Linked DNA regions of Homo sapiens. The protein of the gene in region 2 interacts with the protein of the main gene of each other region in a pairwise test. Each region holds a gene or a part of one and is shown on either strand. Other genes may lie near its edges.

Region 1 (4,368 bases), on a different chromosome or scaffold from region 2:
CCAATCTGTCATTCTGTTAGTGTTATTGTGAATTTAGCAATGCTTTTAAATGAATTTGCAGTTTTAAACACTATAATGTTATCTTCATGCATATGAAGAGTAGTGCTTATTCAGTCCATAGACAATGCTTGGTGGATCTGCAAACTAACAGACTTCTTGTGATAACTCTATGGTCCTCTAGAGTCCTCTACTGTCAGTTGGGAATCGCTGGCCTTCCTGGTTCAAGCTATCAGCTCTCCCCTGCTCTGTGGAACTCCACAATTTCACTCAAATAAGCCCTCATTGAAGTTTTCAAGTTAGAGGGCACAGGATGGCAATCTTAACAGTCAAGACTACTTTAATAATGCCACAAACAGGAGGTATGTTTATTAAGTGTACAGGTAGTTTGCAGTAAAGTGCTTTGTATGAGGTCATGCACAAGACCACTAGGTATCAGCCAGTTAACTTGGGAGGTTTGAGCAATTAGGCAGCTCTTCCTCCCTCCCTTCCTCTCTCCCTCCCCCCTCCCTCCCTCCCTCCCTCCCTCCTTTCCTCCCTTCCATTCCCTTCCTCCCTCCCTCTCTTTCTAAAATGTAAGCTCCTCAATAAGATATAAGCTCCTTGAGGGTAGTAGTCTTTATCTGTTTTCACTGTTGTGTCTCCAGCTCCCAAAACAATGCTTGGCACCTAATAGGCACTTAATAAATACCTGTTAGATTGAATACCTTCTTTCTTTCTTTCTAGCTATCGCACACTCTTTGAGTACTTGACTCTGGGCCCTGCCCTGTGCTGATTTCTGGGGGTACAGAGTAGAACTAGGATGCAGGCCCACAGTCCAGTGGGGAGAACAGTGAGCCATAGTGCTGTGGAGATAAGGTCTAGGCTACCGGGGCAAGGCAGAGGAGGCACACCTGACTCAGGACAGAGGCTGAGCGAAGCTTCCAGGAAGATGTGATGTCTGAGTTCTGAAGGATGATCTGGAGCTGGCCGTTGAAGGTTGAAGAAGGTGGGGGAAGGAATTCCTGGCTCAGGAAGTAGCCTGTGCAAAGCCCTGGATATGTGAGAGAGCTGGTGTGGGGGAGGAATTCACTGCCAGTGATTCAGGAGGAGAGGGAGCAAGGCACCTCCTGACTCAGAATAAGCCCCCAGGGTGGAGGTGGGGTGGGAAGTTCCTCACATCCTGTTTGTTCGTCAGGGAGTTGGATATGAGGGTCTTGAGAAGGTTAAACTGCATGGTTCAAATGAAGTTGTAATATTAACTAACTGTGGATTTTCTTTATCTACACTCAAGTTTTCATTATCCTTGGGCAGATGAGACCCAGGCAACCTCGGCTCCTTCATGCTTTGCAGGGCCAGGCCCTGGGCCCCTCTAAAAAGGCTAGACAGAGCAGGAGGGGCTCCGAGCCACAGTGAGAAAGAGAGAGAAAGCAAGAGTCTACCTGCCTGTGTGTCCCCGGCTGTGTGTATCCAGTTGCACTCCAAAGCTAAATGTATTATTTATGCCCCTGCTTTTCTGTGAGTGGGGAAATTTGAGGCTTGACGATATCTTTTATTATTATTTTTCTTTCTGAATAGCATAGATTCTTCAGAATCGTCTGTAATTCATCAAGGGGAAAATCAGAATTTTTTTTTTTTTTTTAAAATGGACTCAAAGAGGAGATGAGTTTTTAAAAAATATCTATCATCTGTTTTTATTTTGACTGGAATCATTTGCTTCCGAGCACAGTGTAATTAGCTGCCTGACAATTTATAGCCTGATCCCCAGTAACTGAAAAATACCAAACTCAAATTATTCCCCCAGACTAGGAGGCCCGGAGGTGATTGAGGTCTCCTTACGTTAACATCCTCTGTCCTTGGGGGCTGAGGGGGAGGGCAGTTCTCTGCCCTTGCAGGAGGTGGTATCTCCGAGTTGTCAGCAAGACAGGCCTTGTTGTTATACACTGAGTGTCTCCTTTGACTCAGTAATTCCATTTCCAGGATTTTATGCTAAAGAAATAATCAGATATTGTGGGGGGAAAAATGTGCAGGGAACCCCCACTGCATTTTTTGGTTATTTGCATTAGCCAGAAAAAGGAAAATAACTTACACATTCAATAATAGGGGAGTGGTTATATAAATTTTCCTAGGTCTATGTGATAGACTAATATACAGCCATGAAAAGCTATGCTCTAAATGAATTATAAGGCTACATGGAAATGCACAAAATAATGCTGAGTAAAAACCAAAGATAAAATTTACTACTATATACAATATCGTCTAAAACAGAGCACCCACACAGACACATACACATAAGAAGAAACTGGAGAAGCCTATGCCAAAATGCTGACAATGATTATCTCAGGGTGATGGGATTATGGGGATGAGTGGTAGTATTTTCCTTCTACCATTCTGTATTTGTCAAAATTTCCCCAATCAACATCTATTACTTTTAGTAAATAGAAAAGACAATGGATGACATGTTAAGGAAAAGGATCTTTGGATTTGGAATCGTCAGCTTCCAGGTGAAGTCCCACTTGCCCAGCACCTACTATCTGACTCTAGTGTCTCTGAGCCACAGTTCCTCATCTGTAAAATGGGGTTAAATACTACCCAGTTCACAGGGTTGTTGTGAGGATCCAAAATAATGTATGTATTAATGAAATGCCTGGTGCCTATGCTGCAACCATGGACACCATCACTAAATACTAAGAAGGTGAAATTCCACGAAGCTTGCTGAAATCCCTGGATGGGGGTACTGTCAAGATGAAGTTATAATAAGAATGTTCCTAGACAGCTATGAATTGCAGCCATTCTTCCCTTTTCCAGAATATGTAAAGAATGTTTGTGTGCCCACGGAGGAGCCGCATCTAGCCTTTGAGGCTGTCAGCTCATCTTTCCCAACCCGAGGATTTTCCTTTCCTCTGACTCCTCCCTTCATTCTCCCCCACTGACATCTGTTCACTGCCTCGCCAACCAAGGGGGAAAACATTCTTTGGAACTGAAGCTGAGGCACCACCAAGAGTCAAGGCAGCTATGAGATGTTTATTGTCACAGAGAATATGTGGTGCTGGCTGACCACAGAACCTGCCAGGCTGGGATGCCAAGGAGGGACTTTAATGAAGCAGCAGAGGATGGATGCAAGCCGCATAGCCAGGCAGTGTCCCCTGCCTTTGGGCAGAGCTCTTGTCCAAGTGTCTCACTGGCTCTCTGTTTTCTTCCCCTTGGGATGTCTGCATGGCTCCTGGTTGAGCTCACCAGTTTTACAGAACCAGCCTGGTTTATGGGTGAAGAAACACCTTCTCACAGAACTTATGGGGCCTAAGCGTGTTTCAGTAAAGTACTGGGCAGTTTGCCTGAGGGCCCAGCATGCCTAACTCTCACCAGCGTGGATATGAAGCGAGGAAAACCTGAGCTCACAGCCAGGCAGCCTCAAGGACATAGGCACACCTCAGCAGTGTCTACAAGATGCCCTGGCCACCAGGCAATCCAGCCATCTCCCTGGGTAGAATCCTTCACACTGCATGTCTGATTGCATTTTTCATTTTTTAATTACAGCCGTAGACTCATATAGACTCTGACTGCCAATCTAAAGCACCTAGAGAGTTTTTTTAAATTGTTAATGTTTTGCTAAATTCTTAGTAATTATACAAAATCATTATGTAGACCAATAGATATTATTGACCAAGATATAGTGATGCTTAAAACAAAGTCCTCTGTAATCAGTACAACATGTTGGTAGAATTTACCCTAAATGTTAAAAAAAAAAAAAGTACTAATGCTGTGGCTCCACCCCATACCAATAAATCCAGAATTTCTGGGGGATGAGGCCCAAGAAACAGTACTATTTAAAAGTTCCCATGTGATTCTACCGTGCAGCTTAGGTGAAGAACTCCTGTTATAGATGTTAAAGCTGGGAGAGACCCAGTTTCCTGACTTATTTGAACACGCAATCCTTTACAAATTATACTTGTGGATAATGAGCATGAACTATGATGCAGACTTAGATTAAAGTAAGTGACAAAAAAAAATGATCTCGCAGATGAATTAATTGTAAGCAGTAATAATGCGAGGTTAGGTTACATATATATTTTGTTTTTGTTTTTTTTGAGACTGAGTCTTGCTCTGTCGCCCAGCTGGAGGGCAGTGGTGCGATCTCGGCCCACTGCAACCTCTGCCTCCCAGGTTCAAGTGATTCTCCTGCCTCAGCCTTCCTAAGTAGCTGGGATTACAGGTACCCGCCACCATGCCCGGCTAATTTTTGTATTTTTAGTAGAGACGGGGTTTCGCCATGTTGGTCAGGCTGGTCTTGAACTCCTGACCTCGTGATCCGCCCACCTTGGCCTCCCAAAGTGCTGGGATTGCAGGCGTGAGCCACCGTTCCCGGCCAATATATTTTTTAACATTATAAGA
Region 2 (4,368 bases):
TTTTCTTATATTATTGTTTTAAAAAGCTCACAGTAACAATTTTATTTTATAATGTCATTAATTAGAATGAATAAAAAGTGAAAATCTCTAAGAATTATGGCAAACAGTAAATGCATACTAGCAATTAAGGCAATAATTTCTGTTTGCATTCATAAGAAACATCATGTAGGCCGGGCGCCATGCCTCACACCTGTAATCCCAGCACTTTGGGAGGCCAAGGCAGGCGGATCACCTGAGGTCGGGAGTTTGAGACCAGCCTGACCAACATGGAGAAAACCCGTCTGTACTAAAAATAGAAAATTAGCTGGGCGTGGTGGCGCCTGCCTGTAATCCCAGCTACTTGGGAGGCTGAGGCAGGAGAATCACTTGAACCCGGGAGGTGGAGTTTGCGGTAAGCCGCGATTGTGCCATTGCACTCCAGCCTGTGCAACAAGAGTGAAACTCCATCTCAAAAAAAACAAAACAAAAAAGACAAAAAGTCATCATGTAGTTAGAAATCTTTTAAAACTTATTTCTTTAGTTTCTCTCTGTTGAACTTTTTTATTAGTAAAATGCAAGTCTTCCCATCCTCCTCTCAGATTTCATTACAAAACCTTGTTACGTTTGGGAAGATTTCTGAAGTTTTCTAAAAAGATCTCCACACAGAAGGGTTTGCCCAGGGAGCTGCTCAACATACATCCTTCTCAGCTTTTTACCCTTAATCTTTTTACAGACGGAATCAGTCCCCAATGCCTGGAAATTCCTCATTGGATTACTGTGTTTTAAACAGAATTTCGTGAACAGCCTTTTATCTCCAAGCGGAAAGAAAGGTACTTGTGCATTGTGAACATCCTAACATTCTTTTCCTGTGGATGGTAAGGGCAAAAATCCCTTTAACAGGAAACGGGGGAGGTTGCTGTTTCTGTGGATTTACTGGGAGAGAGATGATAATATTCTGGAAGGAAATTTCATTGTTTAAAAAATAAAGTCAGGTTTCTGTTGCATATGACTTAGAGGAGACAATTGCAGAAAACTCTGGAATTGAGGAAGAGAACCATTCCTGTCCTCCCTGAGGGGAAATCTGGCCCCTTCCCCACCCCATGAACATGGGTGGGGCCCCCAGGCACAGGATTGTGAAGCTCGCAAGTGCCCACCCCGCTCGCTGGTGAAGCTGTGTCCGGGAAGATGAGCAGAGACTGTGCTCTGCTAATCTCTCCCCGATGAGCCTGAAAAAGTACCAGGCAAAGACACCTGCCGCCTTTCTCCTTTGCCTTGGGGGTGAAGGTGGCCTCGCCAGCCCTGCAGGGACTCCCATCCTTTCTTGCAGCCACCTTCTCAGTGGTGGGAACCATGGGCAGCTGAAGTCCTGCAGGCGGGCAGCCCCCTCGCCAGGGCAGCATGGTGCCATGGGGCGGCCGGAGACCAAGCATCCCGTTTCTCTTTCCTGCAGCCGTTGCTTCATTTATAAATGGGCGCGTTGGGACAAGATGGACTGGTTGTGCCTTTCCGTTCTGAGATTCTAGTTCATCTGTTTTCTAAAATCCTGGCAAAAGCAGATCACTCTGGAAATTCTTGCCATGCTTTGGGCATTGACAGAAGGTTCCAGGGGCACTGTTAGTCCTGCTACACCCCTTGGCAGACGGTTCTTCCCCAAGAGACAAAGTCGCACCTAGAAATTTGAGAGCACGCTGCCCTGATTGGTCCCTCACTGTCACATTGGATTTGGACTTGAGACCCAGCCAGGCTGGAGGGAGAGGAGCCAGATGGGACATTCTCAAGCTGCGAAGGGGTTTTGTCCAGTCCTGATTCAGGGCGCTAGAGTCCCAACATGGCACCTGAGAAAAAGTGAATTGGGTGTCCTCAGTTCAGACCCCTGGGCACAGCTTATGGTTGTTTGATTTAAAATAATCTCTCAGTTGCTCTGTGGCCTATGTGTAATTGTATTACTATTTCTGTGGAAAAGGAATCACTTCTTTTTATACATAGTTTGAAAAAAAAAAAAAAACCTTAAAATTTTATATTTTACCACTGCAGTTACAAGAATTGTCTTGTTAGGGTTTACAGATGTGCCATTGTTCTGTATAACAGAGAAAACCTTCCAGTCTTCAAGGGCTGAGGGAGAAGGTGGCTGCCCACTTGCAGAGCTGCCTGATAGAGGAAAAGGTGGCATTTTATATTCCTGTTTTCTTCCAAGTAGAGAGTAAAGCAATTCTCCAATAAACTACTTGAAACATTTATTAAATTGTAAGTCTGAATTAGGAAAATTATTGTTATGGTTTCAGTAAGCACTTGAAATCAAAATGGGTGCACTTTTTAAAAATGTGTGATAAAATACACATACCATGAGATTTACCATTAGTAACATTTAGTATATTTATAATACATAATCCAAAATGGTGCTTTTATTTTTGGTTGGAAACTATCATCATATGATTGAACAGAACAGGAATATGTTCTTAATGAATAAATAAGTGCACACACGACTTTTTTATTTTCCAGAAAATTTTCTCACTCAAGGTGAAGCCAAATAGTATTTCCAGTATATTTCTGACGTCAGGTGACGGCAGTGTTAGAACCCCGAGGTGAAATTTCTTTTACTCCTGTGGTTGTCAGTCAGGCTTATGGATCATGAAGGATTGGCTGGTCCTGCAGCCTCGTCCTCCTGGGTTGCCTAGAATCTCGGTAGTTTTGGCCAAAGGGCTCATCTGCTGGCCTCTGTGGATGGCGCCCTGAGGCCTCCGTAACCCTCCCCGGCTGCTCTTTCAGATGTGGAAAGCTTCAGCAGGCCACGCTGTGTCCATCGCCCAGGATGACGCGGGGGCCGATGACTGGGAGACCGACCCTGATTTTGTGGTAGGAGCCGCCAGCCTTTGCTTTCCTCTTTCATGAAGTGGAAGTGGCTCTCCTGGGTTTTTCTTTGATGGGGTGGTGGTTTGTCTGTGTCACAATCCAGGCTGTGAGATTTACTGGTCGCTTTTCTTTTCAGAATGATGTGAGTGAGAAGGAGCAAAGATGGGGTGCCAAGACGGTGCAGGGCTCCGGGCACCAGGAGCATATCAAGTAAGAGGCGTCGCCACCACCCTCCCGAGGGCCCCTCTGCGGATGGAGCCCCAGGTGCAACAGGGCCCATGGTCATCTGTGGAGGGACAGCCCGTGTGGAAACTGCATTTATCTTCTTGACCTGATACCCATGCAGTAAATGAATATAAGACACACACATATATGTGTATTTGTGTAATGTGTGTGTTTATATGTGTATATTTAGATACTTCTGTGCTCAGTAATTTTTAAATTCCCATTGCAAACAATTTCCGTATTTATAATTTTAGAGTGTCCGCTTCTCAGTATTGTGGCTTTTATCAGGGAACATTTGTCCCTAAGCTCTACCTTACAAGCGAGAGGTTTCTAAAGTATGAGATGTCTGAATAACTGAGACCTTAAATGCCCTGTCCCTTTTTTTATTATCTGGAAATGATTATGTGTTAATAGTGAGGTACTGTGAGCTTTGTGTTCTTATCGAAAGCCCAGAGTTGGGCACTGAGTGAACCCTGTCATTGTTTCTCACTTGGCACTATCTAAAATGCCAGCTCTTGGGGCAGTTTTTTTTTTCGTCAGAAAGTGTAGATAAAAGGAACTTTTAAAATATGCTCAGACTTTTATTTTAGGCCACGCTGGGTTCAGAGTGGATCCTCCTTTCCCTGGCTGTGAAGGCAGCACCACTGACCCGGTGACCGCCTCAGTATCCCGGGAAGACTGTCCCGCTTGACCACGGTCCCTTCAGCTGAGAAAGATTTAGTCCTTCCTCCAGAAAAGAAGGCACAGCCTGCACAATGGCTTTTTATTTTGTTGTTAAAGATTTATTTATTTATTTATTTATTTATTTTGAGACAGGGTCTCACTCTGTCACCCAGGCTGGAGTGCAGTGGTGCAATCATAGCTCACTGCAGCTTTGACTTCCTGGGTTCAAGCGATCCTCTCACCTCAGCTTCCTGAGTAGCTGGAACCATGGGCGCACACCACAATGGCTAGCTAAGTGCTTTTATTTCTTGTAAAGATGAGGTCTTGCTTTTGTTGCTCAGGCTGGTCTTGAACTCCTGGGCTCAGGTGATTCTCCTGCCTCAGCCTCCCAAAGTGCTGGGATCACAGGTGTGTGCCGCCGCACCTGGCCCCCAGTGGCTTTTTATACACAAGTTTTAGTCCCTCTCTGGCTTGCTCAGCACACTCCCTTCCACAGAAGCAGCTTCGGAACTCCGGTGGCCGTGCGGCTGCCCAGGACAAGAGACTGGAATGGGGCTGACTTGGGAGTCCACTGTAGCCTTGGGTATTTGCTATGGCGTTAAGCAGACTCCTGAATTCGTTGAGTCATCATACCTCTTCTCATCTCTTCTG
Region 3 (4,368 bases), on a different chromosome or scaffold from region 2:
AGGTAAAAATGGAAATCCGGCCCACAGAACCCCAGGTCACTGTATCCAGCCTGCCTGTGTGGCCGTGGAACCCGGTGAGCACAGAAAGTATCAGGAGGGTTTAGGGCTGCCAGCAGAGCTGATTAGCGTCACCGTCTTCTGTGGCTCAGGATGTGAATGGTGGTGATCTGGAGCTGAAGGATTTGCAGAGTACTGGCTAGAACTGCAGGCCCTGCACCTTGGGTAGAGGGAAGCTGGATGGGTCATTTATGGGCTCTCTGTCTGTGCAGCGTGTGTGCTAGGTGTGTCCATTTAATACTTAAAACGGATTTTCAGGAATGTTACATGCCTCATGTAATGTGGATTTTTTCATGTGGTAAGTGATGTCCTGTCTTAGTTAAGGCTTTAGGTGTAAGTCAGAAGTGTCCCTGGGCATCTGTTTCTGTGGCCTGACTCCTCTGGTTGGTGTTGGGGCCAAGTGGATTAGAATACCACACAGCCATCGAGGTCTTTTTTTCCCATCTGCTCTTTTTGCGTGGAAGGAAGATGTGTTGTGATTGCAGCGCTGCTGAGGAGCACGTGTCCAGCTAATGGGAGGAGGAGGGCTGGCTTCCCTGTGGGGGGGACTGTCCCCTTGCCTGCCGTCCTTGAAGGCACCTGCGGCCAGTGACTCGAGGAGCAAGTCCTGTGCACAGACCGCCCCCCTGATTCGCTCACCCCCCCAGTCTGGGCCTGTTGGCCAGGGCAGCACCCGAGGGAAAGGCTGCAGCAAAGGAGCCAGCATCATGGAAACTGTTTTGAGGGAGAATAAGCTCAGATTAATCTCATGTTTGTGGAACACTGATAGCATCCCACTTGTCTTCTTATACCCCCAGAATCTCAAATTTATATTACGGGGAAACAGCAGTTAGTGCATTTTAAAAGATGATTCTGGGGCCAGGCGCTGTGGCTCATGCCTGTAATTCCAGCACTTTGGGAGGCCGAGGCGGGTGGATCACCTGAGGTTGGGAGTTCGAGACCAGCCTGGCAAAGATGATGAAATCCTGTCTCTACTAAAAATACAAAAATTAACCGGGTGTGGTGGTGGGTGTCTGTAATCCCAGCTACTTGGGAGGCTGAGGCATGAGAATCGCTTGAACCTGGGAGGCGGAGGTTGCAGTGAGCTGAGATCGTGCCACTGCACTGCAGCCTGGGCGACAAAGTGAGACTTCGTCCCAAAAAAAAAAGGGGGGGGTTCTGGAATTGTCTGCTCACAAGTGGAGAAGTCAACAGGAAGAAAATTAGAAAATAAATTGGATTTCTGAAGCCCTCAGTATTCTAGGATGGGAGCAGGAGGCAGGAAGTGGTGGCCGGGTCATTGGTTCATTAGTCCACCAGTGTTGGCTGGTGTTGGGGCACTGCCCCCAGGGAGAGCTGCTTGTGGTCACCCCTCCAGTGAAGCAGGCCTGTTTCATTGTCTGGGATCCCACAGTCTCCCTCATTGCCTCAGCTACTTTCCCACCTGGTGTCCCCGACTGGGTGCTGTTATCCTTCATAGTGTAGCCTTTGATGCCAACATGAAAGGTCAATGTGGCAGGGATGAGGTTGTGAGATGAGGTCTGGAGCATATTCTCTTTATGTAGAACCTTCTGGTTACTTGGGGGACTGGGGGGCGGGGAGCGGGAAAACTAAAAATCCAAAAACGGGCGTCACAGACTGGAGAGCCCCGTGTTTTACTTCCGGCTCTGTTTTCTGTAATAGCATCTTGGCACTCTCAGACGATGCGTCTAGGTGGGAGCCTTCTTACCTCACACTGGACCCCGTCTCACCGGCCTGTGTACAGGTGTGTGTGCGCACACACATACAGACACACCTCACACGAAAGTCATTTTAAGGCAGTGTTGGAGGGACCCAATCATGACCAGACCCTTAGTTGAGTCTCTCCAAGGAGATGCCGTCCCAGAACTGCTGACCCTCAGTCTAAATTTGTGCCCTGGGCAGCTCTTCAGAGACCCCTACGATGGGGCACTCAGGCACTCACCTTCTCTAGCAGACCTTTTTGCCTCATGGTTCCGTCACTTTAAAACCACTCTCTGAGGTTCCAGTCACTACACAGACATGTTTTCATAAGGAAGCCCAGGTGAGTTGGCATCCAGAGTGAGGGCTGCTCTGCACCCGGAGCACAGAGTCCACACTTCGGATGCTTTCTCTTGGCTGAGGAGCTGGAGCCAGCCAGGGCCCTCTGTGCAGGGGCCTACTGCAAGAGCCCAACGCTGTGCCCAGGAAATCATGGGAATGTGAACCCCCTTGGACTTAGAGGCAGGGGCCATCTGCTAGGAAGGGTGTGTGGAAGGAGCCTCTGAAGCACCCTTGAAGGATTCTGGGAGAGCTTTGGTCCAGGTATGGGAGAGTGTCCCAGGAGGAATGTCAAGGCCCAGAGGTGGGCGCCCAGGGCCTGCTGAGTAATCAGCGAGCTTGGGGTCTGTTCTCTGGAGCAAACTGCCTCACGGCCCTGCACATCCTGGTTTGCCAATGGAAATATCTCTGCCTTACAAAGCTGTTTCAGTTCCCATGATGCCGTCCGTGTCTGTCATAAGCGTTGTCGTCAGCAGGCAGGGGTTTACTCCTCTACCTCTGGATTCCTTTGCAGGTAAGAGTAGAGGGGGCTGCTACCTTGCCAGTTCTAGAGAGGCATAGCTTCGTCATTTAGCCTGAATTCAGAGCCTTGCCAATGATGCTTCGTATTTTGAGACGGCACCCTGGTTTGTGTTCGTTATTAATTTCTCTGTCTTGATTTGGTTCTCACATTGGCGACTACAGCTTTCTTTCTGGAAGGAGTAGCCCCATGCTGTGCAGGTTTTGTTTTTGCTCCACCTGTGCTTAAGCAAGAGGCGGTTGGCATTCTCAGCATCTCGTGTTGTAGAAGTGGTGTAACTTGTCACGTTTGCTTTTGCAGAGTAACAGTTACCCCTCAATGAGCGACCCCTACCTGTCCAGCTATTACCCGCCGTCCATTGGATTTCCTTACTCCCTCAATGAGGCTCCGTGGTCTACTGCAGGGGACCCTCCGATTCCATACCTCACCACCTACGGACAGCTCAGTAACGGAGACCATCATTTTATGCACGATGCTGTTTTTGGGCAGCCTGGGGGCCTGGGGAACAACATCTATCAGCACAGGTTCAATTTTTTCCCTGAAAACCCTGCGTTCTCAGCATGGGGGACAAGTGGGTCTCAAGGTCAGCAGACCCAGAGCTCCGCGTATGGGAGCAGCTACACCTACCCCCCGAGCTCCCTGGGTGGCACGGTGGTTGATGGGCAGCCAGGCTTTCACAGCGACACCCTCAGCAAGGCCCCCGGGATGAACAGCCTGGAGCAGGGCATGGTTGGCCTGAAGATTGGGGACGTCAGCTCCTCCGCCGTCAAGACGGTGGGCTCTGTCGTCAGCAGCGTGGCACTGACTGGTGTCCTTTCTGGCAACGGTGGGACAAATGTGAACATGCCAGTTTCAAAGCCGACCTCGTGGGCTGCCATTGCCAGCAAGCCTGCAAAACCACAGCCTAAAATGAAAACAAAGAGCGGGCCTGTCATGGGGGGTGGGCTGCCCCCTCCACCCATAAAGCATAACATGGACATTGGCACCTGGGATAACAAGGGGCCTGTGCCGAAGGCCCCAGTCCCCCAGCAGGCACCCTCTCCACAGGCTGCCCCACAGCCCCAGCAGGTGGCTCAGCCTCTCCCAGCACAGCCCCCAGCTTTGGCTCAACCGCAGTATCAGAGCCCTCAGCAGCCACCCCAGACCCGCTGGGTTGCCCCACGCAACAGAAACGCGGCGTTTGGGCAGAGCGGAGGGGCTGGCAGCGATAGCAACTCTCCTGGAAACGTCCAGCCTAATTCTGCCCCCAGCGTCGAATCCCACCCCGTCCTTGAAAAACTGAAGGCTGCTCACAGCTACAACCCGAAAGAGTTTGAGTGGAATCTGAAAAGCGGGCGTGTGTTCATCATCAAGAGCTACTCTGAGGACGACATCCACCGCTCCATTAAGTACTCCATCTGGTGTAGCACAGAGCACGGCAACAAGCGCCTGGACAGCGCCTTCCGCTGCATGAGCAGCAAGGGGCCCGTCTACCTGCTCTTCAGCGTCAATGGGAGTGGGCATTTTTGTGGGGTGGCCGAGATGAAGTCCCCCGTGGACTACGGCACCAGTGCCGGGGTCTGGTCTCAGGACAAGTGGAAGGGGAAGTTTGATGTCCAGTGGATTTTTGTTAAGGATGTACCCAATAACCAGCTCCGGCACATCAGGCTGGAGAATAACGACAACAAACCGGTCACAAACTCCCGGGACACCCAGGAGGTGCCCTTAGAAAAAGCCAAGCAAGTGCTGAAAATTATCAGTTCCTACAAGCACAC
Region 4 (4,368 bases), on a different chromosome or scaffold from region 2:
CGACAACATTCCCATTTCACTGGCCAAGTGAGTCACCAGAGCCAACTGAATTTCAAGTGAACAGGGAGTACAATTCTATTACATGCCCAGAAGACAAACACATAGAAATGCTCATGAATAGCACACCTACGACTACCATTTACTTGGAAATTAACCCATAACCCAGTATCGGACTTAATGAAAAACCACAGAAGCAATTCCATTAAAGCCAGGCACGTGGCAATGACATCTCCAAGCACAATTCTTAACACTGTTCTGGACACATAAAGCAACACAGTCAGGCAAAGGAAGGAATGTGGAGGTAACATGATCACACTGCACAGATGCCATGATTATAGACACGAGAAACAAATCAAGAAGATCAACTGGAAACTACTATAAGTAGTAAAAGGATAAAAGAACATGGCTAAGGACAAAATCATTACAGAGCAATCAACAGCTTTCATATCTACAAAGAACAGTGAGAAGATAACATGGAAGAAAATACTTCGTTTCTAGCAGCAACGAAAGATGCAAAATAACGATAAACAAACCTAACAAGAAATATGCAAAATGGATATAAAGAAGACTTGGCATATCATAAAAGTAACATATCAAATAAAGAGGGAAAGTAGACCGGGCAGGGTGGCTCACATCTGTAATCCCAGCACTTTGGGAGGCCGAGGAGGGTGGATCACAAGGTCAGGAGATCGAGACCATCCTGGCTAACACGGTGAAACCCCATCTCTACTAAAAAATACAAAAAATTAGCCGGGTGTGGTGGCAGGTGCCTGTAGTCCCAGCTACTTGGGAGGCTGATGCAGAAGAATGGCATGAACCTGGGAGGCGGAGCTTGCAGTGAGCCAAGATCACGCCACTGCACTCCAGCCTGGGTGACAGAGCAAGACTCCAACTCAAAGAAAAAAAAAAAAAAAAAAGAGGGAAAGTGAAAAAATGGTATTAAAATAAACTACATAATCATCTGGAAAAATGCCAACTAAGTTTGGTCCATGCCTCACACCACATCAGGCCTAATTCCAAACAAATCAAGGACTTAATGGAAAAAAAACAAAGCCCTAAACAAACAAGAATCAGCTATGAGGAAACTTTTGTAACTTGGGAGTGTGGACTTCTAACTATGACACTAAACTGGAAGCTACCAAAGATTGGTCGGCTGGGCCCAGTGGCTCACATCTGTAATCCCAGCACTTTGGGAGGCTGAGGTGGGAGGAACGCTTGAGCCTAGGAGTTTGAGACCAGCCTAGACAACATAGGGAGACCTTGTCTGTACAAAAAATACAAAAATTAGCTAGGCGTGGTAGTCTCAGCTACCAGGGAGGCTTAGGAAGGAGGATCGCATGAGCCTGGGAGGTCAAAGCTGCAGTGAGCCACAATCTCGCCACTACACTCAGGCCCAGGCAACAGAACAAGAACATGTCTCAGAAAATAAATAAATAAAAAATAAAAGATTGACCTTCAAACATTAAAATTTTAACATCTCTGTGTGGCAAAAATCACAATAAGTTAAACAAGAAATGGGGAAAAGAATATTTGCAACTCAGTTCATAAAGGGCTAATTCATGAAGCATATCTATAAAGTAATAAAAAATTAATAATCTAATAAAGATAGAAAAAGGATACAAACAGATAAAGTTCACAGAAAATAAAACAAAACATTCTTTTTTATTTTTCTTTATTTACTTTTTTTGAGACGGAGTTTCACTCTTGTTGCTCAGGCTGGAGTGCAATGGCGCGATCTTGGCTCACCGCAACCTCTGCCTCCTGGGTTCAAGCGATTCTCCTGCCCTAGCCTCCCAAGTAGCTGGGATCAGTATGAACCAGCATGTCTGGCTAATTTTGTATTTTTAGTAGAGACGGGGTTTCTGCATGTTGGTCAGGCTGGTCTGGAACTCCCGATCTCAGGTGATCCGCCCACCCTGGCCTCCCAAAGTGTTGGGATGACAGGCGCAAGCCACCGCACCTGGCCGAAACATTCTTAAATAGATGGCAAGAAGTTCAGCCTCACTCAAAAATAAGAGTAATGAGGCTGGGCGCTGTGGCTCCCACCTATAATCCCAGCACTTTGGAAGGTCGAGGCGGGTGGATCACCTGAGGTCAGGAGTTCGAGACCAGCCTGGCCAACATGGTGAAACCTCATCTTTACTAAAAATACAAAAAATTAGCCAGGCCTGGTGGCAGGTGCCTGTAATCCCAGCTACTTGGGAGGCTGAGGCAGGAGAATTGCTGGAACCTGAGAGGGGGAGTTTGCAGTGAGCCGAGATCGCACCATTGCACTCCAGCCTAGGGGACAAAAGGGAAACTCTGTCTTAAAAAAAAAAAAAAAAAGTATTAAAAATAAACTTGCTCTGAGAATGCAGTTTTCGCCTATATGACTGGCAAAACTCAAAGATGTATGAACTATAGGCAAGGTTGTGGGGAAAGAGACAATTTCTACACTGCTGGGGAAGGTGTAAATTATCACAGCTCTCTAGAGGGCCTGGCAGTACCTATCGAAGTAAGAAACACACACCCTCTTCGACCCAGCAAGTCTACTTCTGCAAGTGTATCCTACAGACACTCACAGGTGTGGAAAGCAATGTGTTGTGCAGTTACACGGTGTCCACAGTTATTTACTGCAGCATCATTGGTAACAGCAAGACTCTAGGCACAAACTAAATGTTCACCCACAGCAGATGAGATGAATGACATATCCCCAAGGTGGAACCCTATATAGGTACAAAAGCTAGTAATGCTCTTCATGTGTTGATACACAATATTCATCAAGATAAATTAAGCCTGAAAAACAAGATTCAGGACAGGGCTCTCCATGCTATATGGAAAGGGGGATGCAACACTCTATGCGTGTTGGCTTGCACCTGCACAAATTATGTCTGGAAGGATACCCAAGAGACTGATGACATCGATGGCCCTTGGAAGGGCAAGTAGGTGACTTAGAGATATAGAGAGGCAGACATTTCACTTTTTACACCTCTAAATTAGGAAGTCAATTTCAGAAACTTCTAATGGTCTGGCGTGGAAAAAGAATCCAGGACCAGAACTCAGGGAAGCAGTCTTCTGCTCCAGGCTCTGTGACTGGCTCCGAGGGGTCCCGGGCTGGCTGACTTGCTCATCCTGCAAACACATGAGCACCCACAACAGACCACATCCTTCGCTAGGTGCCAGGCAGGCTTGGGGTACATGCAGCCCACCCTGGAGGGTGCCTCAGGCAGTGCGGTGAGAGACATGTAGAGGTGGGAACACCTCTGAGAAAATATCAAAGCGTGTGTGAGAGGAACGGGTCAGAAGTCAGAGTGGCTGGAAGAGGTGAAAACACAAGTTGGGTCAGATCACAGAGGGTTTGCAAGCCATGGCAAGGAGCTTTTATTTTCTCCAAAGTGGGATAGGAAACTATTACCGGGCTTTAAGAAAAGAATTTTAGGCCTGGCGTGGTAGCTCATGCCTGTAATCCCAGCACAGTGGTAGGCTGAGGCAGGCGGATCACTTGAGGTCGAGTTCGAGACCGTCCTGACCAACATGGTGAAACCCCGTCTCTACTGAAAATACAAAACTTAGCTGGGCACGGTGGCTCATGCCTTTAATCCCAGCTACTCAGGAGGCTGAGGCAGGGGAATCACTTGAACCCAGGAGACGGAGGTTGCAGTGAGCCAAGATGTCGCCACTGCACTCCAGCCTGGTGACAGAACGAGACTCCATCTCAAAAAGAAAAAAAAGGCTGAGCACAGTGGCTCATGCCTGTAATCCCAGCACTTCCGGAGGCCCAGGCGGGCAGATCACGAGGTCAGGAGATTGAGACCATCCTGGCTAACACAGTGAAACCCCATCTCTACTAAAAAAAAAAAAAAAAAAAAAAAAATTAGCTGGGCGTGGTGGCGGGCGCCTGTAGTCCCAGATACTCAGGAGGCTGAGGCAGGAGAATTGCTTGAACCCAAGAGGCGGAGGTTGCAGTAAGCCGAGATCACGCCACTGCACTCCAGCCTGGCCAACAGTGAGACTCTGTCTCAAAAAAAAAAAAGAAAAAGAAAAAAGAAAAGAAAAGAGCTTTATAATCTAACTTGTGTTTTTAAAAGGTGACGTTACTGTGTAGAAAGTGTATCCGAAAGGAAGCAGATAATATCCCCTGACATTACAAATGCACATATTAGCCAACGGGAAGTAGAAGCCGGTGAGACAGCGTGGCTGAGACCCAGACAGCAGCATGTGGATGGAGATGGAGAGTCTGTAGATGGATTCAGGATATCTTCTGAAGGTGGAGAAGACGTTAGCTGGTGATGGCATGAATGTAGGAGGTTCTCAGCTTGCACAGCTGGGTGAAATGGAGAAATAAAATGGGTGATGAGAAAGACAAAAAGAACAGGGTATGCAGATGCA
Region 5 (4,368 bases), on a different chromosome or scaffold from region 2:
CTAATAATGACTTACAACTACTTTTATTTAAAAAAAAAAAAAAAGGCATAAGTAGTAAAGAAAATCCTAGTAAAATACCACTAATTTGTTCTTTTCAATGAAGTGAAGGACCTAGAATAGACAGGCAGCACATCCTTCCTTCAGCACTAAAATGACCAAAGTATTTGAAAGCAGTTATACTGGGAAGTCCAAATGCAAGCACAAGCATATCAAAGAGAAAATCAACAAATGAAAATACAAATTCTGCCTACACAAGGCTAAAAGTACCAGGAAGAAAACTGGACAAAAACACATGGTACCCTATATGCTAACCAGCTAACAAGCAAGGAAAACTGGTTTCTAACACAGTGGTTTCAAACTTAAGGGACAGTCAAATACCTAGCACAACCCATTATACTGGCTTTCCCTTTTAAATCTCCACAGGCTGGTCAATCACTTAACTGGTAAAATCAATTTACAGCATGACTCTCCCATCTCCACATTTGCAAAGAGAAAGGTATATGCAACTAGCATCCAGCAATGAAAGAAACGGGGTGGGGAGGGTAAAAGTACCCATTCTGAGACAAATAACTGAACTCAATGATTCTCTTACTGGTTCAATGACTAAACACAAAAAGCCCAAAGACAGTCCTGAAGCCACCACAACCACAAAGGATATTACAAAATTATGAGTCCAGATGAGTGGCTGTCAGGGCTTAGGCATGGGGGAAGCATGGAAAAACAAAAGGCTAGTATATAAGGGAGGGTTTGGGGGATGACGAAACTGTTCTGTATCCTAACTGATAGGGTGGTTACACAAATCTACATATGTTAAAATTCATAGAGCTGTACGCCCCCGCCAAAAGTGAATTTTATTGTATGATTTAAAAATATACATATTTTAAGTATACACAAATTCTTATAGGAGCCTTATTTACATTACCCCCAAAAGGAAAACATCCCAAATATCCTTCAAAGGATGAATGGAATAGACACAATGGTCATCCATCCATGTAATAGAAAACTACCTAGTAATAAAAAGGAACAAAGAATTGAGTTACACAACGACATAGATGAATTGCAAAGATACCATGCTGAGTGAAAGATAAACATCTTAAAAGATCATATAGTACATAATTTCAATTATGACAATATGGAAAATGTCTTATAGGGACAAACAACCAATCAGTGGTTCAGTAATGAGAGGGAGAGAGAGGGCTTGACTATAAACTGGCTGGTCAAGGAAATTTACAATTTTATTATATTTAATTTTTTTTAGAAGAAAAAAGATATAAAGTTTCTAAAAACATTAAGTACAGAAAGCAGACATAAGTTTTAAACACAGTCTTTTGTGCTCAATAAAATCAAGATGAATTCTAGGATCAAGGGATTCCATTAAGAAAACAGAGTTAAGAGGGGGAGCTGAATGTGATAATAGAAGCAAACAAATACTATCAGTGAAGAATGCAAAACCTCACAAATCACAGAAACAGCACAAATAAAATACACTGAAAAATATGTGAGCAGGAAAATTCAAATCCTCCAAATGAAGAGAAAAAGAATAAAGAACCAACAGAACTCAAGGGCAAAGATTCAACATATTTGTTGACATTAATAGAAAAAAGTGGCCTGCAGACAAAGGATTACAGAAAACAATATTCATATTGTACACGTTTTCACATTTACATTCATAATGTAAAAATAAAGAAAAATCTTTTGTGCACACACCAAAAAAACAGCTATTTACAAACAAAAAATGTAGGCTGGCCTCAGAATTTTCCATAATATAAAACCACATAACTGTAAAGCAAGGCTTATACATAGTACTTTAAGTGAAAAGGCTGTTGACTAGAAAGAATTCTATACCCAGCTAAATGGTTGCTTACATATTCTGACCAAAGACATTTTATGGATCTAAAGGCTTGCTAATAAATAATAAGTTAAACAAGGTTCAAAATAGAGCTGTCAAAGGTGGGTTAGGCATTAAAAAGGGTGGCAGCAACGTGACAAAAGAAAAACTTCAGCTGAATTAAATTTAAAGGAGATTAACTGAGCAATGAATGTGATTCACGAATCACAGAGCCAGCCAGAGTAGGCTCTGACATTCAAGCACAGCCCTGTGGTGGAAGTTTTATAGACAGAAAAAGGAAAAGTGATATACAGAAAACGGAAGTGAGATAAACAGCTGGATTGATTACAGGTTGGTATTTGCCTTATTTGAACAGTTGGCTACATTTGATTCAGCCAAAATTTGGTCACTGGCACAAGAGTAGGCTGCGGTCTGTTTATACCTCCACTTGTTATAGTTCGCCATGTACAGAAAAACCTTTAGGCTGGACTTAAAATATGTAAGGAGGCGGCTTTAGGATAAACTTTATTTAACAAAACAATGAAACAATATAAGGGTAATATTAAAGTTTAAATCACTGTTGTGTATATGGCTACAATATATATAATAATACAGCTACAATATATACCTGTCATTAAAAATTTCCTGAAACAACTACATAATATTAACATACCAAATACATTATAACAAAACCAGGATTAAATTTTCAAGTTTGGTAGAAAAAAAAAAAGACACAGAAGGGTGATTATCTCCTCAGTGGTGGGCGAAAGAAAAGTTGGTATTTCCTTGCCATGTATCCTTTGTCCTAAGTAATCTCATCCCACTTCCATGCTATTAACTGTTTAAGAACAAAAGGTCCCCAAATCTGTGACTCGGACATCTAACTGCCTAATCAGAGATTTTGCTGCCTATATTTCTCAAAGGTATCTTAAAATCAGCACAATCTAAAAATGAAGTCTTAACTTGCATCCCACCTTTCATACCTCAAATCATTTCTCCTGATGCGCTACTTGTAATGGCAGTTACAATATGACCACTTTACTTAACTGCTAAACTGAAAGACTCAGTAGCTACTTTTGATCCCATTTCTCTCATTTCTCATATTTAAGTGGGAGAAAACACAATTATATTCAGCAACCCATCTAAAAGGTTCAGCAGAGCCTTAAAGTCATTTGTATTAATTACTCCAAAGCAAAGTTTCCAACAATCCAACACAGCAATCAATAACTAGCACCAGAATCACCTGGAATGTTTATACTTAAAAAGTACACTGCAAGTTCCTTTATCAAATATACCAAGGGATGGGTCTCGAGAATCTGCAATTTCAATAAACACCCCAATTAACACTTATGTGACTTAAGGTTTGGAAACTACTGCTCTAGGGTCATTATTCCAACACCTTCCCTCTGAGGAATGTTGAAGCACTTCCCTGTGCTGCACACAACCACAAAGACAAGATATTCAGCTTCACACACAGAAACAATCACTGATTTTACATAGAGTTAAGTTACCTCTTTATCTTAATTTCTACATAGGAACAAGCATTCCATAAGAACATGCTTTCCATAGTAACAAGCATTATTTACTGGAGGAGCTTCTAACTTTACCCCTACTAAGTTTCAAAAGAAATTTAAATGTATCCCCTATAGAAAAGCCCATCCATTTTCTCTTTCCACCTAAAAATAGGACCCCAATTTTACGTTACAGTTTGGAAGAGAAAACTTTCCCTAGTTGAACTGACTCTTGTGGCCCTGTGATCAAAGTCTAGCCAATATTTGGGGGGCTAATCCCCATATGGGCCACTCAATAGGATATTTTTAAAAAATAAAAATAAAAATATTCTGGCCAATATAATACAAGGATAAACAGCATGTTTTATTTCAGGAATGTCTCCCTCAATCTTACAGAGGGTATATAACAGAATTAGGAATCAAATTCTGCAAAGCCTCTATTTTGTACAAGTGCTTTAAGTATAAAAATTATAAAAATACTTCAAGAGTTTTATGTTTTAAAAACATATTTTGCCAGGCACAGTGGCTCATGCCTGTAATCCCAGCACTTTGGGAGGCCGAGGCGCACGGATCACGAGGTCAGCAGTTCAAGACCAGCCTGGCCAACATGGTGAAACTCGTCTCTATTAAAAATACAAAAATTTGGCAGGCATGGTGGCGTGTGCCTGTAATCCCAGCTACTCGGGAGGCTGAGGCAAGAGAATCACTTGAATCCGGGAGGCGGACGTTGCAGTGAGCCAAGACCACTCCATTGCACTCCAGCCTGGGCGACAGAGAGCGACTCCATCTCACAAAAGAAAAAAAAAAAAAAAAAAAAAAATATATATATATATATATATATATGTAATTTCTTATAAACACAAAATTAGAGTAAAACATTTATTTAAAAGTTGTTTCAGCTGGGTGCAGTGACTCAGGACTGTAATCCCAACATTTTGGGAGGCAGAGGGGTAGGGGCAGATCCTTTGAGCTCAGGAGACCAGCCCGGGCAACATGGTGAAACCCTCTATCTACAATAAATACAAAAAT
Region 6 (4,368 bases), on a different chromosome or scaffold from region 2:
GTTCAAACAGAGGCATGGCACCAGCGGATGGAGCTGGTGTGCAGCTGGGGTTAGAGTGGCATGTTGGAGTCAGATGATTGGGTGGGAGATAGACTGAAATGCTGCCAGGTGGCTGAGGATAGATGGTCAAGCCCTGGAGTTGTTGCTGGATCTCTAAACATTTGCAAGGTAAATGAAGTGTGGTGTTAGGATCACTGGCAATGGGTCAGACAACCTTGGTTTGTCTCCCTCCTCGTTGCATCTTCGTGGTGCCTCTGACTAACCTGTGAAATGTGCTTGTCAGTACATGCAGGTGGCTGTGGCCCACATCCATACACCTCACTCTGTACCCCGTGAACTCCTGACTCAGCCCTCTCTTAGCCCACTGTCCACCGTGGCTCAGCACCTATGCCATCTGGCACAAAAGGAAGGGGTGGAGGGATGTCAGAGTGGAAACAGATAGCAGCCTTGGTCGGTGCTGTTAAAAATCTCTCTTCTGCAGGATTTCCTGAGCAGAAGGGGCCTGTGTGTGCATGGGCTTCATTTGCTTCACAACACATCTGCCTTTGCCATGGTTAACAATTTGAAGACATGGTACAGGGCATCGATCCCTTCTTCTCACCTGGGCTTGCCTTTGTGTTGTTCCTTTCAGGAGAGTGGGCAAATGACCTGCGGCACGGCCATGGCGTATACTACTACATCAATAATGACACCTACACTGGAGAGTGGTTTGCTCATCAAAGGTTCGGTTTCTATCTTGGGTCTTAACGGGATTTGCTTATGTAATGAGAACATGATGTCTGCAGATTGTTTACACTTACTGAGGAACAGAATCATAACAAAAGCCCAGTTACCAACTCTGCCAGGCAGGTCCAATCTTTCTATGGCTTTGAGGCAAGGATGCCTTTCTGTGCAAGTGTAGACTCAAGTATCTGACATCTGCACCTCAGTTGGGGCAGAGCACGTGAGTCTTTCACCCAAGAGTCCCAGGGAGTGGAGGGCACAGAAGAGCCACTGGGGGACCTGAGCCACAGCTCCCACTAGCTCTGCCTCTTCCCTGGGGAAAGCAGCTGACACACAGGAGGCTTGCCTCTGTCCAGCTGGCCTGTCCTCTGTGCCTCTGGCAATGTCCTGTGCTTGGGGCACACTGAGCAAGGGGCACCTTCTGACTGGACACAGATATAGAAGCTACATCGCTTGTGAGCCTGCAACAGCCTGGGCCTCCCTCAATGTCAATGTCTGTGTTTTAAACCTGGGAGATTTTTCACTGTGCTGGAACGAAATACCATGTTCCCCTTGTCTTAACCAGGCATGGGCAAGGCACCTATTTATACGCGGAGACGGGCAGTAAGTATGTTGGCACCTGGGTGAACGGACAGCAGGAGGGCACGGCCGAGCTCATTCACCTGAACCACAGGTACCAGGGCAAGTTCTTGAACAAAAATGTAAGTCCATGGGAAGTGACATTTGCCAATGAAGTACAAAATAACCCCCTCTGGCAGCCTGTGCAAATGTGTGACCAGAGAATACCAAAAACTCAGAGAAAACTGAGTCCGGCCTATTCAAATGTGGAGAACAGGACAGCTGTGCCATTCTCTGAGCCTCTGGTACCCACAGAGCACAGAATTGGGGGAAGGGAGGGATTGGCCCGTTTCTCTGGATCTCAGTACAAATTCCCACTGTCTTTCAGCGGGGACCTGTTGCATTGTTATATAACACGAGAGGGCATCTGAACCTCTTGTGTGTATTCCTTCTCATGGGTAAATCAGATACCAAATATCTATTTCCTGCAATTGAGCATAGAGGTGTTTGGGTTTTGTTTCCCTGGAAGGGGAGGTGCGACATCCCTGGGGAGGAAGACCCCCAGCTCCCTCCTCATGCTACAGGCCAGCCTGCGTGCTCCTAGTTGTGGTGGGAATTAAGGCTGCCAAGGGCCTGGCCCTGCGTCTGGAGGCTTGCCAGCTTCTAGCACCCATGGTGGGCCGTTTCTGTTTGGAAGACTCGGTGGTTCCTCTTGCCCTTATTGTACAGAGAAACCTTGAATAATTCAGAAGCTAATACTCAGGCCATCGTGGTAGCTTTGATCAGGGGTTGAGCAGAAACTTTCCCTGAAGAGAGAATTTGCGGAGCAAATTGATGGTGTTAGAAGTTGACAGAGGGAATGTTTAGCTGATACAACGAAGTCTCTTCAGACTCTCTTAGAACCCAGTTTTCATTTACGTATAATTCATGCCCTAACCACAGATTTTACTTTTAGTCTTCATCAAAACAGCACATTCCCCTCAAACCCATACATTGTTTATATAATTCCCAGCAAACTTTCTGTGGGTCTTTTTGGAGGAGATGGGAAGGTGGTTGCAGAGGAAGAGAATTTGATGAAAATGAATCTGGAAGAATCAATCAGCTTGTCCAGCCTAAACCAGTCTGAAAAATCGGGGTAAAAATGGAGGCTTTGTTTTGCTAGTTAGTAAAAAACTTTAAATTATACAAATAATACACAAGTACATTCCAATTGTAAAGCATTTAAACACTAGGATCCTGCCCCACCACCCTGGGCCCAATCCTTCCACACTATTTCTGTGTGTCATGTAAGCACATTCTAATACAGTCATCTGACACAGAATTATTGTTTGGGGGTTTTAATTACATAATTAGGATCATACTGTGTCAGGATACAAAAATATACATAAAGATACATATTTGTCATTTTGCACATTTGGGACTATTGTGTAGGTTAGATAATGGAATTGTGAAACCTTTGAGGATTGGCATTTAGAATCACAATCGGTAGTGCCCATTTTCCTAAAAAGTGGTGTCAGTTTATACTCTTGCCAATAGAATATGAGTCTGTTTATCATATATTCTCATCGATGTTGGATATTCTCAGTCTTTAATGTTGTTTTTGTTCTTTTCCAATCTTATGGGTAAAAAATGTCATCTCATTGTTTTAATGTGTACTTCCCTGATTACTAGTGAGGTCAAACATCTTGTCACATGTTTATTGCTGGTTTGTGTTTCTTCCTCAGAAAATTCCCTGTACATGTCCTTGTGGACAAGTTATCAATACCACAAAACTTCAATAATTAAAACAGTGTGATACCAGGATACACACACACACACACACCAATGAAGCAAATTAGGAAGTCCAGAGACAGTTCCCAGTATATAAAATAATTTCACACACAATAAGCGTGTCAAATTAACAAAGGGATGATGGGAGGAGTCAAGACATAGTGCTAGGAACACTTGACAATTATTTGGGAGGAAAATAATAGTTTTGCCTTCACACAGATGAAGATACTTTCTAGAAGAAGTAAAGATTTAAATGTACCCTAGGAAATATAGAAAAAAAATGTAGATGAATATTAACCTTGAAATGAGGAAAGAGAACTTTCTAAACAGAAATAGAAAGGAAAAACCAATAGGTTTAGCTTTATAAAAATAACTTCTTATAGATTAGAAAATGCTGTAAAGAAAATCTAAGAGATGACTGTTAAATGGGGAGAGAATATTTGCAACATTTAATATATAAAGTGTTTTATCAATCAATGTGATTTAAATGGCTAAAAATCTTGAAAAAAATGCAGGCTTACTAACAACTGAAATGAAGTGAATTAAAATTGTGAGACCCTGTTGTTTTATATAAAAAAACATGTAAAAATAGACCATTTTTACACTCCTAAAATCAAGAGTTTGAGGATCTGGGACTCTTAAGTGCAGTTATGGGAATGAAACGATTAGAGCCTCATCTAATCAAAGCACATGTATGCTTTTGTCCAGAAATTCTGAGAATTTAAGGATGGTATCAAAAGCGTACATAAAGTTTTAACTCAGAGTACGTTTGCTGGAGCGTTCTTTGTAAAAAAAAAAAAAAAATCAGTATCCCAAATACCAACAATAGTAACTGAGTAAAATAGGTTGCAATCCATAGATGAAATAAAGTACCAGGTGGCAACTGTTATTAGGAAAGAATATTTGTAAATACGGGAAGTAGTTCATGCCATATTTCTCAGTAAAAATAGAGTATGAGTTAGTATGTATAATTATGATCAGATTTTTATTTAACCATGTATACTAGAAGCAAAGTTACAAAGAATGCATCAAAATATTAGTAGTAGTTCCATCGGTAGCTAGTTTGCCTATGGATACTGATTCACTGAGGTTTTCTGAAAATGAATACATCACTTTTATAAAAAAGTAAAATGTGGTTAAAGTTTCCAAAAGTAAACAAAACAGGGCATATAAGTTCCAATCCCATCAGCCACGAGTTCACAAAAGCATTCCTTAATCCATGTTACACTTTACCCAATTTGGTGATTTGAGGTGGGTATTGTGGTGGTGACATTTGTATTTTGTATTTTCTGCTGGGTGTTGACACTTAAGAATGGT
Region 7 (4,368 bases), on a different chromosome or scaffold from region 2:
ACAACCCTGAGAGAGCAGTCAGAAGGAGAAGGAAAACAGCCTTCATTTCACTCAGACAACACCTTGTGATAATAACAAATTTCTTCTGTATGGAAAAAGATCTATTTTTTTTTTTTTTTTGAGATGGAGTCTCGCTCTGTCGCCCAGGCTGGAGTGCAGTTGTGCAATCTCGGCTCACTGCAAGCTCCACCTCCCAGGTTCACGCCATCCTCCTGCCTCAGCCTCCCGAGTGGCTGGGACTACAGGCGCCCGCCACCACACCTGGCTAATTTTTTTGTATTTTTAGTAGAGACGGGGTTTCACCGTGTTAGCCAGGATGGTCTCGATCTCCTGACCTCGTGATCCGCCCGCCTCGGCCTCCCAAAGTGCTGGGATTACAGGCGTGAGCCACCGCGTCTGTCCAAGATCTATATTTTTATTTATTTTTTTGAGACAGGGTCTCACTCTGTCACCCAAGCAGGAGTGCAGTGGCAATCATAGCTCAGTGCAGCCTCCAGCTCCTGGGCTCAAGGAATCCTCCTGCCTCAGCCTCCCAAGATTCTGTCTCTACAAAAAAAAGTGTAATTTTTGACCAGGCGTGGTGGCTCACGCCTGTAAACCCAGCACTTTGGGAGGCCAAGGTGGGTGGATCACAAGATCAGGAGTTCGAGACCAGCCTGGCCAGGATGGTGAAACCCCGTGTCTACTAAAAATACAAAAATTAGCCAGGCGTGGTGGCACATGCCTGTAGTCCCAGCTACTCAGGAGGCTGAGGCAGGAGAATCACATGAACCTGGGAAGCAGAGGCTGCAGTGAGCCGAGATCACGCCACTGCCCTCCAGCCTGGGTGACAGAGCAAGACCCCGTCTCAAAAAAAAATAAATAAAATTTTTATTAAAAAAGAAAGAATAGAAAGCAGGGTCTCTGACAAATATCTGTACACCCGTATTCACAGCAGCATTATTCACAATAGTCAAAAGGTGAAAGTGGTCCAAGTGTCCGTCAGCGAATAAACAGGTCAGCGAATGCGGTCTACATAGATGAGCGAATGCGGTCCACACACACCAAAGAGTCAAGTCTCATCCTGCCTTAAACTGAGAACATGCTGGCCGGGGCGCCGGGGCTCATGCCTGTAATCCCAGCACTTTGGGAGGCCGAGCCACGTGGATCACTGGAGGTCAGGAGTTCGAGACCAGCCTGGCCAACATGGTGAAATCCCATCTCTAACTAAAAATACAAAAAAATCACACTTCTAATCCCAGCATCCTGGGAGGCTGAGGCGAGTGGATCACGAGGTCAGGAGATCAAGACCATCCTGGCCAACATGATGAAACCCCGTCTCTACTAAAAATACAAAAATTAGCCAGACATGGTGGCACACGCCTATAGTTCCAGCTACTCGGGAGGCTGAGGCAGGAGAATCACCTGAACCCAGGAGGTGGAGGTTGCAGTGAGCCGAGATCACACCACTGCACTCCAGCTCGGGTGACGGTGCCAGGCTCCGTCTCAAAAAAAAAAAAAAAAATTAGCTGGGCTTGGTGGTGCACACCTGTAGTCCCAGCTACTTGGGAGGCTCAGGTGGGAGAATCATTTGAACCCGAGAGGCGGAGGCTGCAGTGAGCCAAGACCATGCCATTGAACTCCAGCCTGGGTGACAGAGAGAGACTCTGTCTCAAAAAAAAAAAAAAAAAAAAGAACATGCTGACGCATGCTGCACCATGAGCTAATTGAAATAAGCCTGTCACAGTAAGGTAAATACTGTATGATTCCAGTCATATAAGATCCAGAGAGTAGTGACATTTATAGAAACAGAGAGAACGGTGGATGCCAGGGGCTGGGGAGAAAGCGCACGGGGACTCAATGTTTAACAGGTACGGAGTTTCAATTTGGGAAGATGAAAACAGTTCTGGAGATGAATGGTGATGAGGTTGTATAACAACATGAACATAATTATGTCAGTGAAGGTATGTACAGTCAAGAATGATTAAAATGGTAAATTCTGTGTTACATATATTTTACCACAAAAAAATTACTGTGACAGTTTTATTTATTTATTGAGACAGTCTCACTCCGTAACCCAGGCTGGTGTGCAGAGGCGCGATCATAGCTCATGGCAGCCTCAAACTCCCTAGCTCAAGCAATCCTTCCACCTCAGCCTCTCGAACAGCTGGGACTACAGGCACCACCAGGCCCAGCTATTTCTTTTAGTTTTTGTAGAGACAGAGTCTCACCATCACCATGTTGCCCAGGCTGGTCTTGAACTCCTGACCTCAAGCAATCCTCCTACCTTGGTCTCTCAAAGTGCTAGGATTACAGGCATGAGTGCCTGGCCCAAAAAGTTTTACAATTTCTATGTAAACAAATTTCAGGCTGGGCATGGTAGTTCACACCTGTAATCCCAGCACTTTGTGAGGCCAGCGCGGACAGATCACTTGTGCCCAGGAGCTCCAGCCCAGGTTGGGCAACCTAGTGACACCCCATCTCAACAAAAAATACAAAAATTAGTTGGGTATGGTGGCACATGCCTGTAATCTCAGCTACTTGGCAGGCTGAGGTGGAAGGATCGCCTTAGCCCAGGGAGGTCAAGGCTGTATGTAGCCAGCCATGATTGTGCCACTTTTTGTTTTTGTTTTTGTTTTTTATTTTGAGACAGTCTCACTCTGTTGCCCAGGCCGGAGTGCACTGGTGCAATCTCGGCTCACTGCAACCTCCAACGCCCGGGTTCAAGCAATTCTCCTGCCTTAGCCTCCCAAGTAGCTGGGATTACAGGCGCCCGCCACCACACCTGGCCAATTTCTGTATTTTTAGTAGAGACGGGGTTTCACCATGTTGGCCAGGCCAAAAGTAGTATGTTCCTTCGTGGTATCTGATATGCATATCAGAAAGAGTTCTGTACTTCACTGGTGTCTAGAGCACCTAGTCTCCAGATCAAAGTACACGTTCCATGCAGGGCCACAAGACAATTTACTGAGAGGCAGGAAAAAAACACACTTTTTAAAAAATTATTATTTTATATTTTAAAAAAAGGCCAAGTGCAGTGGCTCACACCTGTAATCCCCGCATTTTGGGAGGCCAAGGCAGACAGATCACCTGAGGTCAGGAGTTCAAGACCAGCCTGGCCAACATGGTAAAACCCCGTCTCTACAAAAAATACAAAAATTAGCCGGGTGTGGTGGTGGGCACCTGTAATCCCAGCTACTCAGGAGGCTGAGGTAGGAGAATCACTTGAACCCAGGAGGTGGAGGTTGCAGTGAGCCAAGATCACACCATTGCACTCCAGCCTCTGAGTGACACAGCAAGACTCTGGGTCAAAATTTTAAAAATCTGCGGAATTATTCAGGCAAAAATCAAGCCAAAAAAAAAAAAAGGAGAAGGAGAAGAAGGAGGAGGAGGAGAAGGAGGAGAAGAAAAAGGAGAAGAAGAAGAAGGAGAAAAAGAAAACAAAACAAAATTAAACTGTCTAAACCTGTCCACAGGAAAATGCTGTGTGACAAACTCACCTGGCTCAGCCTCATGTCCATCAGAGTGTTCCTCGCTTGGCCAATCTTCCTCATGTCCAGCTCACCTGTGCCAGGTGTCATCAGTCCTGGCGTCATTCCACCTGGGTATGGAGTGTTTAGTCCACCTGGATAGGGTGTGTTAAGACCTCCAAATTGCTGGAGGGGAAGAGAGGAAAGGCAAGAATAAAACAACGGTTTGCACTGCATGCCCAAGAAATTTACTCTCTGAAATACTTCCCCAGTGGCCTGACATATGCACAGCTGTGCAGACAGACTCGGCCACAGCATAGCCATGACCTGCAGAAGCATTGAATCCAACACCACCCACCATTCCTGCCACTGATCTAACAGGACTAAATGGGCCACATGTGCCCTTTTTTGGAAGCTCACAGTTTGTCGGGGATCCACTGAGGTATGGTTCTCTCCGGTCTGTAAATGTTTGGCAAAGAAACTGTCAGGAACAGGGGTCAGCTTCTCATAGCGTGGGTTCCGCTGACGTTTATTTCTGGCATCGCCAACCTCGGGGATGCTCAGCCACTCTTCTTCTGTGACTTCTGCCAACTTCCTCTGGAAATATCCAGCCCCCAAAAACATTAATTCTCTGACAGAATTTCATGTGCCCAGGTAGGACCATGCCCTCTCTCACCCCTAGCCTCCAGATCACCAAGCTTTAGAAGGGATTTGGATGCAGCAACTGTTTTTTACTTTTGTTTTGAGATGGGTCTCATTCTGTTGCCCAGGCTGGATTCAGTGGCACAATCACAGCTCACTGCAGCCTCAACCTCCCAGGCTCAAGTGATCCTCCCACTTCAGCTTCTCAAGTTGCTGGGACCACAAGCGTGGGCCACCATGCCTGGCTAAGTTTTTATTTTTTGTAAAGACAGGTTCT

The links.
Region 1: the proteins of CTTN (region 2) and NHSL2 interact in binary tests that used the Homo sapiens proteins (3 or more experiments, as listed by UniProt).
Region 3: the proteins of CTTN (region 2) and YTHDF1 interact in a two-hybrid assay, tested with the Homo sapiens proteins (one large-scale study listed by BioGRID).
Region 4: the proteins of CTTN (region 2) and GTSE1 interact in a two-hybrid assay, tested with the Homo sapiens proteins (one large-scale study listed by BioGRID).
Region 5: the proteins of CTTN (region 2) and YTHDF3 interact in a two-hybrid assay, tested with the Homo sapiens proteins (one large-scale study listed by BioGRID).
Region 6: the proteins of CTTN (region 2) and RSPH1 interact in a two-hybrid assay, tested with the Homo sapiens proteins (one large-scale study listed by BioGRID and IntAct).
Region 7: the proteins of CTTN (region 2) and PRPF6 interact in a two-hybrid assay, tested with the Homo sapiens proteins (one large-scale study listed by BioGRID).

What each region holds. Positions count from the first base shown.
Region 1 is NC_000023.11:71,916,759-71,921,126, forward strand, and holds part of NHSL2 (NHS-like protein 2), read left to right. Parts: intron 1-4,368.
Region 2 is NC_000011.10:70,404,553-70,408,920, forward strand, and holds part of CTTN (src substrate cortactin), read left to right. Parts: intron 1-712; 5' UTR 713-809; intron 810-2,745; coding exon 2,746-2,832; intron 2,833-2,965; coding exon 2,966-3,039; intron 3,040-4,368.
Region 3 is NC_000020.11:63,202,354-63,206,721, reverse strand, and holds part of YTHDF1 (YTH domain-containing family protein 1), read left to right. Parts: intron 1-2,914; coding exon 2,915-4,368.
Region 4 is NC_000022.11:46,299,445-46,303,812, reverse strand, and holds part of GTSE1 (G2 and S phase-expressed protein 1), read right to left. Parts: intron 1-4,368. UniProt on the Homo sapiens protein: May be involved in p53-induced cell cycle arrest in G2/M phase by interfering with microtubule rearrangements that are required to enter mitosis. Overexpression delays G2/M phase progression.
Region 5 is NC_000008.11:63,188,493-63,192,860, reverse strand, and holds part of YTHDF3 (YTH domain-containing family protein 3), read right to left. Parts: intron 1-4,368. UniProt on the Homo sapiens protein: Specifically recognizes and binds N6-methyladenosine (m6A)-containing RNAs, and regulates their stability. M6A is a modification present at internal sites of mRNAs and some non-coding RNAs and plays a role in mRNA stability and processing.
Region 6 is NC_000021.9:42,482,725-42,487,092, reverse strand, and holds part of RSPH1 (radial spoke head 1 homolog), read left to right. Parts: intron 1-631; coding exon 632-722; intron 723-1,288; coding exon 1,289-1,424; intron 1,425-4,368.
Region 7 is NC_000020.11:63,994,594-63,998,961, reverse strand, and holds part of PRPF6 (pre-mRNA-processing factor 6), read right to left. Parts: intron 4,047-4,368; coding exon 3,870-4,046; intron 3,636-3,869; coding exon 3,480-3,635; intron 1-3,479. UniProt on the Homo sapiens protein: Involved in pre-mRNA splicing as component of the U4/U6-U5 tri-snRNP complex, one of the building blocks of the spliceosome.